Regions from separate parts of the Homo sapiens genome. Here regions 2 and 3 are each reported to be linked to region 1. Evidence: microRNA targets listed by miRTarBase, many of them from high-throughput screens and not tested one by one. Region 1 holds a microRNA gene; each other region holds the end of a gene's coding sequence.
Evidence for each region. The annotated mature microRNA hsa-miR-4761-5p reads ACAAGGUGUGCAUGCCUGACC and lies in region 1 at 1,315-1,335, opposite strand. An mRNA with a match to its seed (bases 2 to 7 or 8) in the 3' UTR can be bound and repressed. Matches are read on the target gene's strand: a 7mer-m8 pairs with bases 2 to 8, a 7mer-A1 pairs with bases 2 to 7 and ends in A, and an 8mer does both.

Region 2: the mRNA of ARHGEF4 is a reported target of hsa-miR-4761-5p. The part of its 3' UTR that is shown has no 7-base or 8-base seed match.
Region 3: miRTarBase lists CACYBP as a target of hsa-miR-4761-5p. Seed matches in the 3' UTR shown: 7mer-m8 at 2,028-2,034 and 7mer-m8 at 1,842-1,848.

What each region holds. Positions count from the first base shown.
Region 1 is chr22:19,961,090-19,965,089 of GRCh38, reverse strand. It overlaps MIR4761 (microRNA 4761), which reads right to left and starts at 1,337; the gene lies at 1,256-1,337. COMT (catechol-O-methyltransferase) reads right to left here. Exons shown (of 6, transcript NM_000754.4): 2 at 3,801-3,891; 3 at 2,275-2,563; 4 at 1,331-1,524; 5 at 791-922. The coding sequence starts at 2,563. RefSeq lists enhancers at 849-1,564, 1,565-2,280, 2,281-2,996.
Region 2 is chr2:131,045,799-131,049,798 of GRCh38, forward strand. ARHGEF4 (Rho guanine nucleotide exchange factor 4) reads left to right here. Exons shown (of 14, transcript NM_001367493.1): 14 at 240-1,455. The coding sequence ends at 391. FAM168B (family with sequence similarity 168 member B) reads right to left here. Exons shown (of 7, transcript NM_001009993.4): 7 at 2,078-4,000. Among named protein-coding and RNA genes, the nearest start is that of SMIM39, 13 kb to the left of the region's middle.
Region 3 is chr1:175,009,704-175,013,703 of GRCh38, reverse strand. CACYBP (calcyclin binding protein) reads right to left here. Exons shown (of 6, transcript NM_014412.3): 6 at 1,677-3,781. The coding sequence ends at 3,625. MRPS14 (mitochondrial ribosomal protein S14) reads left to right here. Exons shown (of 3, transcript NM_022100.3): 3 at 1-746. Among named protein-coding and RNA genes, the nearest start is that of MRPS14, 12 kb to the left of the region's middle. RefSeq lists a silencer at 845-1,045.

The sequences.
Region 1 (4,000 bases):
AGCGGCCCTACCTAGCCAGGCATGGGGGCTGTGCCCCTCGTGCTCCTAGTCCGGCTGCTAACAGCAGTGTCCAGTTTCTGGGAGAGCTGCAGGTGAGCGAGCACCAGGTGGGGAGGCCGTGAGGGTGGGTGTCCCAAGCCCAGTGGAGGATCACAGAGCCACTCAGTGTCGCTGACCACCAGGGAGGGATGGGGCAGTGTGTCACTGATGTGAGGCTCCTTAAGCATCAGTCTGTGAAGGGCCACCAGTGCCCCACGCCCCCCAGGGAAGCGAGGACAGCCCCACCCGCTGTCTAGCCTCACTCGGGGCACTCAGGGTCCTCGCCAGTGGGGCTGGGTTGGGGGAATGCACAAGATGGGGCCTCAGGAGGAAGATCTGCAGGAGACACATGCTTTCTTTGCACGAGCAGTGGCTTGCTTGGGGGAGAGCAGGCTGGGCCCAGAGCGGCCCTTCCCCACCCCATCTCCTTGGTCCTGTGCCGTTTCTGCCCTGGTGTCTGGTCTGGGGTGTGCACCCCACTTCTGCCACCCATTTTGCACCTGCACAGGCAGCTGGCTCCCCAGTTCCCAACAGGCCACCCAGCCAGGCCCCTGGCCCAGCTCCCCACCCATCTCCACCCACCACAGGGCCTCCTCAGTCCCCCACACTCCCAGACCTCAGGTGGTGCCTCCAGAGCGAGCTGTGTCCACACAGGGCTCTACTGGAATGCCTGGCTCTTTGGAGAGGCTGAGGCTGACTGAATGGGCTCTGGGCAGCAGCTGGCACGGATGCCATCCTGGTTGGGGCTCACCTCCAAGAGAAGCGTGTCCGGCAGGTACCGGTCCTTCCAGTGGTCGAGGAAGACCATGTCCAGTGTGTCCACATCATACTTCTTCTTCAGCTGGGGGATGATGTCCTGGGACGCTCCAACCACAAGGGTGACCTGGAACAGCGCCTGTCAGTGCCCACGTCCTCACAGACAGGAGGCCATCCCTACACACCTATACAACAGCGCCTGTCAGTGCCCACGCCCACACAGACAGGAGGCCATCTTTACACACCCATACAAGCATTCATCAGTTTTCTTTAGGGTTCTGGGATGACAAGGCCCCACTCTGTCCCTGCCCCTCCTGGTGCCACCTTGGCAGTTTACCCAGAGCTGTGAGACCCTCACTGAGCTGCTGGGGGGGTCTTTCCTCAGCCCCAGGCTGGGAAGCACTGAGGGGCCTGGTGATAGTGGGTTTTCAGTGAACGTGGTGTGAACACCTGGTGGGGAGGACAAAGTGCGCATGCCCTCCCTGCCCACAGCCGGCCCTTTTTCCAGGTCTGACAACGGGTCAGGCATGCACACCTTGTCCTTCACGCCAGCGAAATCCACCATCCGCTGGGTGATGGCGGCACAGTCGGGGTTGATCTCGATGGTGATGAGCCTCGCCCCTGGTGACAGCAGGCGGGCCATGCGCACAGCTGAGTAGCCACAGTAGGCCCCCAGCTCCAGCAGCACGGAGGGCTGGTGCTCCTGAATCACGGCGTCCACGATCTTGCCTGTGCAGGGTTGGGGACGGAGGAGAGGTGAGCACAGGTGGAGAGAGGGGAACTTGGATCCCCAGGCACGGCCCCCCACCTCTCCCAAAGAGCAGGAGCCCCTCCCAAATGCCTGGCCGCTGGCCCTCCTCTGCCCACCCTCCCTACCCGCTGGAGGGGTATTTCACCTCCCTGGTGTCCCCAGCCCCCAGGACCTGGTCCCCACTGTGAGCGCGCTTGGAGCTCCCATGGTCCCTTAGCCTCTATGCTCACGCTGGTCCCTATCTTTTCCACCCTTCCTGGCTGGCCCCAGTGTGTCCTAACACAGAGCTGCCCTCTCTGAATCACCGAACCGCCCACCTTGGGGCCCTGGGGCGGCACTAGTTCCCTGAGTCACTCCGTGAGCCCGGTAACACATCCTGTGCCCCAGGCTGAAGTTCAAGCGGGAGGCGGGCCCAGGAGAACCTGTCTGACTGGTCCCCAGGCAGGTCCCATGGTGGCCAGAACAGAGTTCAAGGGGAACTGCACCACCGTCAGACCCTGTGAGTGTGGGGGCCTGTTGTCCTGGGGCAGCAGGCAGCAGGGCCTGCAGGGGTCATCAGGGACCCTGGCACCCTGGGACTCCAGAGGAGCCCCCCAGCCCTATCTGGGCATATCCCAGGGTTCCCAGCCCCCTGGAAATGGGGTGATAACAGCTTCTCCTGTAAGGGCTTTGATGCCTGGTCCTGGGTCCCTGTCCCAGAGCTGAGCACCTGCTGGCCCGGACCCCACCTTTCTTGTCGCCCACGTTCATGGCCCACTCCTTCTGCTCGCAGTAGGTGTCAATGGCCTCCAGCACGCTCTGTGCGTTCCCGGGCTCCGCATGCTGCAGCACGTGGTTCAGGATGCGCTGCTCCTTGGTGTCACCCATGAGCAGGTTGTGGATGGGCTGCAGGATGAACTCGTTCCAGCCGATAAGGCACAGGCCCCAGCCCCAGTGCCTCAGAAGCAGCAGCAGCACCACCAGCAGCACCAGGCCCAGCAACACAGCTGCCAACAGCAGAGGCGGGGCCTCCGGCATCTGCAGGGCGGGAGGGGAGGGGCGCCAGTGCTCTGTGCTCCTCCTGCAGCACCCACACGCCCCTTTGCTTGGAGTGCCACCATCGCCCCCTTGTGTTTGCAGAGGGGCAAGGTTCAGAAATGCCAGCCTTGTGCCTCAGTTGCCTGACGTGTCAGCGCCAGGGAGCCAGCCTTCTCGTGCCCTCTGGTGCCCTCGGGTAGACAGAGCAGGTGTGTGCCTCTGGCAGTCCTGTGTGGAGCCTGCAGGGTCACACTCCCTGGCCCTGGGTGCTTCCCCAGGCAGCCCAGGGATCCTCTAAAACCACACAAAATACAGAAGCAGACACGGACTCAGGCTGTTGTCTCCCAGCTGGCTTAGAGGACACCCAGGGGTAGGGAAGCCCCATGGCCCGGAGTTGGGGGTAGTCACGGGTGGCCAAAGGAGAGGCTGTATGGTGCAGCCCCTTGGCCTCATGTGGTGAGCCCGTGCTGGTCACCCATGCTCTGGACGCCCCAGGGATTCATGTGGCCTTTTCATTGAGTGTCCAAGTAAGGACACTGGCAGTCCCCAGGCCAGGCACACCAGGACAGACCCACTCACCACTCCCCTTGGGAACAGCAACGTGGCATGTCCCAGATGAGAAAGGCCAGCCCTGCCGCCCACAACAGTGTACCTCGTGGGGCACAGTGATGGCAAGTGACCCCACTTGAAACCTGTTTGAAATCCTCCTGGTGTGACCCTCCAGGCAGGTAGCCTGGGAACCAGACAGAAGCCTGGTGAGGGGACCCAGCAGGCAGAGAGCAGAGCACAGGAGGCCTGAGGCAGAAGCCCAGGGGTTCAGGTCACAGACCCTAAAACGGGAAGGACACAAGGAAACTTCTTCTAGGGCCCCTGTGCTCACTCAGAGGTCTTTCTGGGATGGGGCCCTGGGCTCCCAGTGGCATAGGAGATCCCACTCTCTGCTGGACGCTCCATTTTAGAAAGGCACACCCAGGCAAGGAGGCAGGCCTAGGGCCACAGAGGGGACACCCCTGGAGGCCAGCCTCAGGGCACCAGAGGACAGAGCAGAAGAGAACAGGGAAGCAGAGGCTCCGCCCTAGGGGGAGGTCATGCGGACACCAGGCTTCTAGGGGATTTCAGGCCATGTGGCCTATTTACACAGGCAGAGTGGACATGTGCTCAGCAGACCTGTGCCCATGCACCGGGCCGGAATCTGTACCCACCCTGGCACTGCCCCGGCTTCCGTTGGCCAACTCACCTTCAAAGCACCTCTGAGCAGGCTCCAGCCCTCTGGCTGCGGGAGGGGTCTGGGGTCTCCTCTGAGCTCGGCAGCAAAGCAGATGTTATTTCTGTGGAAATCAATTTTGCCTTTGGATAATCATCAACATAAACCCTAACCTGGCGATGACCAAGGTCCAGATACCTGAGCCCCTTCCCCGGATAGGGCCAGCCTGGCCT
Region 2 (4,000 bases), not on the chromosome of region 1:
TTTGCACAGGCCACCCCCCTCTTCAGGCTGCTGCAGGAGGCCAGGCCCAGGCCAGAGACCCCAGGCAGCCTGAGCTCTTGGATGTGGTCAGCTCTCCAGGAGCAAGTCCTGTGTGGCAAAACTGCCTCCTACGGCGGCTCTGAAGCAGAGCCCTGGGACGGACCCCATGCTGTCCCCAACAGCTGGGGTGGCACTCTGCCCTGGGCACCCATGACCCTCTGCTGTCTCTCCCTGTTCAGCTGTTGGCCGGCCCTGCTACCTGACGCGCCAGAAGCACCCAGCCCTGCCCAGCAACCGGCCCCAGCAGCAGGTCCTGGTGCTGGCGGAGCCCAGGCGCAAGCCATCTACCTTCTGGCACAGCATCAGCCGGCTGGCACCCTTCCGCAAGTGAACTGGTCCCTGCCTGACAGCACCTGCTGGGCCTTCCTGCCAGTGGCCCCCAGTTTTTCTTCCCCGAGGCCCACTCGGCCTGGCCTTCCTCTGCCTGCAAGTGAGCAGGGATGGGCTGGGGAGTTGCTTGTGCCACCAAGACGTGCCAGGTCTGTACTCCTGTTGTCTTTTTCCCTGCTCCTGGTGCCCTGAAGAGACCAGCAAGGGGGCAGACCCCGCACTCGCCACACCGCCGCTGCAGCTTGGGCCCCATCCGCCCTCTGGACCTGTGTAGGGCCTCACTGCTGGAGCGGGGAAACCGCAGCTCAGCCCAGGCCCAGCTGGGGAGAAGGCGCTACCTGCGTGGGACCCTCTTCTCTGGAAACCTAATCCTCCTTTCATTTCCTCTGGGCAGGACTCTCTGGCCTTCTGTGGCCTGCAATGCCAGGCCATGTGCCCCTCTGCCCTCTAGTTCTCCAAGTCCCCAGCCCGGCCAGTGGTGCCAGGCAGCTTGCCACTTGGGAGGGCAGAAGCCAGGAATTCCACACCCTTGTGTTGCGCCCGGAGCCCGCCCTTCGCCTCCCAGCCCCTCAAGACACCGCTGGCTGCTGGACACCCTCTTCACTTGTGTGTGTGTGTGTAGCGGAAAAGGACAAGACGGTGCAGTCGGCTGCATACTCCCAGTCGGGAGTGTGGTCAGTCTGCCTGCTGCTGTGCGGTAGCTCCAGAACCACCTCGTTCCTGGTTTTGTTTGGATTTTGGCATCTTGTTTTTCTAACAACAAACAATGGAGAAAAAGAATTGATTCTTAGTGACACAGAAGATTGCCTTACGCTCGTGAGCGTGAGAAGCCATAAGAGAGAGACCGAATTCTGTGGCTCAGCACACAGGACTGACCCACAGCCCAGGCAGCGGGTGTGTGGAGATGGCGCCCTGTCCTGCCAAGGGGCGCCAGGAGCAGAGCCAGGGCCTGGCGAGCTGGCGTGGAGCCCACAGGATTCAGCAGCATGGACAGTCACTCTTGCACTATTCCTTCTCCAAGCCAGAAACCACATTTAATTTCATAAATAAATTTATGAAAAGTAACCTGGCTGCTAGCCCGTTTTCTGTGGGTGTGCGTGCATTTTCCTGTGGCCAGCAGCCTCTAAAGGTGGGGTGGGGGCTCACCTGTCGCAGATCACACCCTCGGGGATTTAGTGGAGATGATAGGCTGAGGCGGGGCTGGCTGCAGTTGTTCGCCTAAGGCGAGCAGGGCCAGGCCATGCTGGTTGCTGATGGGGAATACAGGTAGCTCTGCCCTCCCTTGCACTCAAGACCCAGAAACCAGTGCTTCCCTGTGTTTGTTTGACTGGAGCTGGCCCACGTGAGTTTGGTGGGTGAGTAGTCAGTAATCTTTCTGGGCCTCAGCATCCCTGGTGAAATGAGGAAGAACGTGTCTTCCCAGGGTCTTCTGACCCTGGCCACAGAAGCCAGAAGGGGAGCATGGTGCTGCTTCCCTCCCTGTCCCACTTGGGAAAATGGTCCCCTGCAACCTGCTGCCTCCACCACACTCCAGCACTGCCAAGGTCACTGGGGCTGGACGCCATGGTGGTCTTCTTCTCAAAACCCCTGGCAATCTCCCAACTTGAGAGAAGCCCCAGCACCTCCCAGTCAGGCCATGCTACCTCTAGACAAAAACCCATATGGAGAAATCATGAAAACCACAATATGCAACACAAGTCAATCTTTATTGAAAACTGCAGTATTAATACATAACAATTCTTGTTACAATAAACGTGCTTTTGAGATTTTTAAATCTGAGCTCATCTCATCAGATTGCATAAAAAATTAAAATAGTATCAATTGACACCTAACTGAACTGGCTCAGGATGGAAATTCCATTCCTTGGCATGGATACGTAAGTTCAATGCAGAGGTGAGGGATGCCTTTAACACTGGAAGACAATGCTGACTTAGCTTAAAAAAAGTACCGAGAGAACGGTGTAAAAAACGGTATTTAAAAATCATTTTTAAAAAAACAAAAAGGAACCGTTTCTTCTTTAGTTACAATCCATGAGGCTCTCTAGGGCCTCTCCGTGTGGCCAGCACAGCAACCCTGCTAGGAGCACAAACGGCTGGCCTGAGATCTGGCCCAGCTGCCTTGCCCACTGGTCTGCACAGGGACTCATGGGCACAGCCTGTGGTGAGGAGGAGACACCTGTCATGCCAGTCCTGGGAGCACACCACCCTTCTGCAGGCCCGGGGGGGGGTCCCTACACAGACGCCGCTCATCCTCTGTCTCCCCTTCCCAAGTGACTTCACTTCAGTCCTGTGGACCAAGATAAGGCTATCCCCACAGGCTCTCTCTTCTTCAAATAATGAGTAGGAAAAAGAGACAAACTTTCTGAAACATGCAGTTTCCGACCCAAATAGGCCACATACCCCAACTTCTGTGTTACTTGGTCAGTTGAGCCCCTGGAGCCCTCAGGACCTACTGATAAAGCATGTCCTCTGCAGTATACTCAAGAGTCTGCTGCCCTTCAGAAAGCCAGAGGGAACACTCACAAATGCAGAGGTACTAGAGGGGAGAAATACGTGCTCTGCCTTCCCCCAGGCCAACCACACTCTGCTTTAGAGACCCTCTCAGAAAGCACCAGAGAGGAGGACCAGACGCTGCCACCCACCTCAAGCCACACCCCTGCCACCTGCTGCTGCGCCCAATGGAGGTCCTGTCCTGTCCGGGCAACAGCCAAACTGGCGACAATGGACACATCCAACAGTCAGCTGTCGGATAAGGTGAAGGTGGCCCAACTGCTCAGAGTAACACTGTTCTCAAATGTTTAAAAAGGACAGGTGAAGTCTGGGTCTCCTTTTTTAAAGCAGACACCAATACTTACATAACTAGTACATGTTGGCCTTTCACCAGCACTCACTGGCACTCACAGGTGCCTTACATACCTTACGGGGGCCAACACTGACAGGTATTAGTACGTCGCAAGTTGCTGTAATAATGTATTTCCTCTCGTTACTGTTGTGTCCCCCAAGACACATGCAAATTATTTCCTAGACCTCATTCATCACAGCCAGATGATGCCACCAGAAAGAGCAAGGTACTGTATGCCCAGCTGGGGAAGGGCAAGACACTCACTGACCAGGTGCCCACCCCAAGGCTCAGGACCACCCCCATTGCCTGTGAACACATTTGCATAGCACTCAAGAAGGTTTCCCAGAATAGCGACAGGTAGGCCTACAAACCACACCAAGAAGAACGTTCTTAACAGATGGCTCACGAGAGACATAAAAGGTTCTGGAAGTGCCTTCAGGCCCATTACCATGACTGGCCCTGACTCTGGCCCTCACAGAGCGGCAAGTTCATGGGTCACTGGCTCACACTAAATGCTCAGCCGCCAGCACAGATCCAAACAAGACCTCCATGAGCAGAGAAACTGCAGCGGCTGAACACACTCCCCAAGCCTCAGGGGAGAAGGTGTAGAACAAATATTTTTTAAATAGCCATCATGATGTCCATGTTTACATGAACTAGGTCCTTTGCTTACCTGCTGTCTCAACTTCTAAAAGAATAGTAATTCAGCTGAAGGACTCCCAAATTAGGAATGTCAAACACACAAAAAGCAAATTTCTCAGAATGCTCC
Region 3 (4,000 bases), not on the chromosome of region 1:
CATGTGAAGGAATTAAGACTGACATACCAGGTATTACAGAGTTTTAAGCACAGGAATGACATCATCAGTTTGTAATACAGGTAAGTGACAGCTGTGTGGCAGATGGCCATGAGAGGAAAAAGCTACAGGCAAGACAACCAGTTAGGAGGATGTCTTAGTTGTTGAGGAAGATGAAGGCCTGAACTAACATTGTGGTATTAGTAGAGGAGAGAGGACAGATTTTTAAAGTTTTAGGAAAGAAAATTGGGCAAGACTTACAAGACTGATTATATCTAAGAGGTAAAGATGGTTCTCTGGGTTCCTGATAAAAGTGTCTAGATAGATGGTAGAGGGCAATTCCAAGAGGGCAACTCCAAGATAGAAAATTTGGAAAAAGAACAAATTTAGGGGAAACAGAAGATAAGCGAGTTCAGGTTCCAGTCATGCGGTGTTGGAGATGCCTGTGTCATCTGATGAAGACTAGTACGCAGCTGGATAGCAGAGTCCGAAACTCAGGTGGAGGTGAAGTTATGAGGGAATTATCACAATCTAGTTTGGATTCATATTTCTTAAATATGTATGACAACTTACCAACTGGAATGTTCTAGCTAATATCTCAACTTAGAATCCATCTCACTACCAATGGGCAAACACTTGTGTTCTAAAGTTACTTGCAAGTAGTTTATACTGCCAACTTGATATATATACATGCTATAGTTTGAACATTTTGTGTACTTCCAAAATTCACATTAAAATCTAATCCACAATGCGTTGGTATTATTAAGAGGTGGGGCCCTTAGGGGTGATTAGGCCAGGAGGGCTCCACACTCATGGATGGGATCAGTGCCTTTCTAAGAGGGCTTGAGGGAGAGAGTTTGTCCCTTTTACCCTTCTGATACTGCGAGAAGGCACCGTACTGGAAGCAGAAAGCAAGCCCTTACCAAACACCAATCTGCTGGTGCCAAATCTTAGACTTCTCCAGCCTCCAGAAGTGCAAGAAGTAAATATTATTTATAAATTCTTAGTCTATGGCATTTTGTTACAGCAGCAGGAATAGACTAAGACAATGTGTTGATAGGTTTAGGGTCATGTTTTACTTTTTCAGTCATGTTAAATTTTAGATGGTTCTAAAGTCAAAACTCTAGAAAAAGTTAAATTCACAGAATAGCTTCCATCCTCATCTCCTTCCTTCCCCTGCTAACAATTTTTATTAGCTTTGGGTTTACTCGTTTCTTTTTGAAACATAAGCAAATACACCTATGTGCATACATTCACATTTCTCACCCTTTCTTACACAAATGTAGTGGGTATACCATAAATGTTCTGCACTTTGCTTTTCCACTTACTCTATCCTGGAGACCATTTTACGTTATATAGAACTCTTCATTGTTTTGTGACTTAAGTACTCCCTCATGTGGATGCACCATAATACATTCCTGTTAAATAGACACGAGTATTTTTAATCTTTTGCATATAGCATTCCAAATTTTTCTAAATGTACCTTTCAGAGCCCAGAAAGAAGTTAAAATTCTGGGTCAAAGGATAAATGAATATGTCATTCTGATGGTTATTACCAAATACTCTTTCTGAGACAAGAGTCTTACTCTGTCACCCAGGCTGGAGTGCAGTGGCACAATCTCAGCTCACTGCAACCTCTGCCTCCCGGGTTCCAGTGATTCTCGTCCCTCGGCTTCCCAGGTTCAAGTGATTCTTGTCCTTCAGTCTCCCGAGTAGCTGGAGTTACAGGCATCTGCCACCATGCCCAGCTAGTTTTTTTTATTTTCAGTAGAGACAGGGTTTCACCATGTTGGCCAGATGGTCTTGAACTCCTGACCTCAAGTGATCCGCCCACCTTGGCCTCCCAAGGTGTTGGGATTACAGGTGTGAGCCACTGCACCTGCCCAAATATTCTTGTTAACCAAAGTTTAACTTTTGCATTCCATTCCCATATATGTGTCCTTATTTCTCCACAGCCTCAACTCAATACAGTTGTTTTTATACTTCTTTTTCAAGTGAAAGGTAAAAACACTGGTTTATTCTCTTCTGAACAAGGTGAGCATCTTTACATGTTAAAGGTCATTTACATTTCTTTTTGTATGAAGTATTCTTAATTATTGGAATCCTGTCAATACATTGTTTGCCTTGGGTTATGGTGGGGTTTTTCTTGTCCTATAAACATTTTTATGTAGTTAAAATTGATCAATAGTTTTATTTATTTCTTCTAGGTTTTAAGTCACATATAATGTCGTTTTCCTCCATTTTCTTCTAGTATTTGTATGCTTTACTTTTTACAATTAGATCGTCAGGCGGCTTGGAATATATCTATATGCCTATTTTCAGTTATCTTAGTATCATTAAAAACCCATCTTTACCCCACTTTTACCATATTCTGTAACTTTCATATGCATTGTGTCTGCTATTCTGTTCATGTGTCAACCCCAATTACAGAGGCATAATGTGTTTCAGTATTTACTTATAGCTATCCTATACATAAACTGTTTCTGTATTTTAAATCCTACCACTTCTTCCAAATTCCCATATTAATTGTAGCTTTAGTTTAGTTTACCCTTCTGGATTTTTCCTGTGTGTCTAACGGCTTTTTTTTTTTTTTTTTTTTTAATGAGACAGGTTCTCAATCTGTTACCCAAGCTGCAGTACAGTGGCATCATCATAGCTCACTGCAGCCTTAAACTCCTGGGCTGAAGTGATCCTCCAGCCTTAGTAGCTGGGATTACGGGCGCCAGCCTTCATGCCTGGCTTCAATTGCTTTCTCTGATCTAACTGTGTTGGCTAATACCTCCAGGAAAATAAAGTAATGGAGATCACAGGCACTGGTCCTGACTTCAGGGGGAATAGGAGTAATTCCTACTAAAAGCCTGATTTTTCTGACATACTCCTAGACAAATAAATCATAAAACTGTTCTAATGAAGAAAAACTTAACTTTATTGAGCATAGGAATAGACGGGCTTTCAAATTATTTTTTGCTTTATGGTTATTACTTTTATAAACCATCTGATCCACGGCAAAACTAACTGGTACCATACAAAGATATGTCTATTATTGTCATGTTTAGATTTTCTATTCCACATTCATTGACAAATATATTTAAATCTAGATAGAAACACCTGTGATTGAATTAGTGCATGGTAATGCATGGCATATACATTGCTTAAGGTGGTAATAAGGGGTCAGATGCTCTACAGCAACCTTCAAGCACAGGCACCGATTTGCATTTTATGCAAAACTTCAGGTTTTACTCAATTTTTACACTGGTGGAAGCTGATGTCAGTAACTTAAAAGGCAAGCAAATACTTTTCCAATTCTTAGCTGAACAAAAAATACACACAATGTAGCGTTTTTATTGGGCAAGACTTGCTTTTTATATTTCACGTGAGAATGCAATATAACCCTTCCTTGAACAAAATGACCAGGGTACTAATAAAACCATCTTTGCAGGAGTGTTTAATAAGCATATTTTATTTAAATAAATCCTCCAGTAGGAAATGGAGAATTCATTGCCTTTACTTAGAAGGCTATGTAAATAGCTATCTGTCAAATTTATATATGCAGCTCACCAATATTCCCTTACTGGAAACATCAGTATTTCCACATCACATCACAGTTCCCAAAACGACTTTAAAGTCTCAAAATTCCGTGTCTCCTTTGGCTTGCTTCTCTCTTGATTCCACCCAGGCTTTATTAATGGTTCGCTTCATATCATCGTCTCCATCTTCATAAATTTTCTTTAGAACATTCATCAATCCCTCACTAGGATCTGTTTCAGTGTCATAGGAGGGCTTCCTTTAAAAAGAAAACATATACAACAATGGGGAAACGAAAGCACCGGAAGATACTATCATTCAGGTTGTTAACACTGGCAGGAAGTAGAGGGATAAGAAGGAAGACAGAGTACCCAAAGATATTTACAATCAAAACGGCACGCACAAATTCATCTTAATGAAAACAACACACACGTATCAAGCATGCACACACTTGGTGCACGAAAGAGGTCATCAAAAT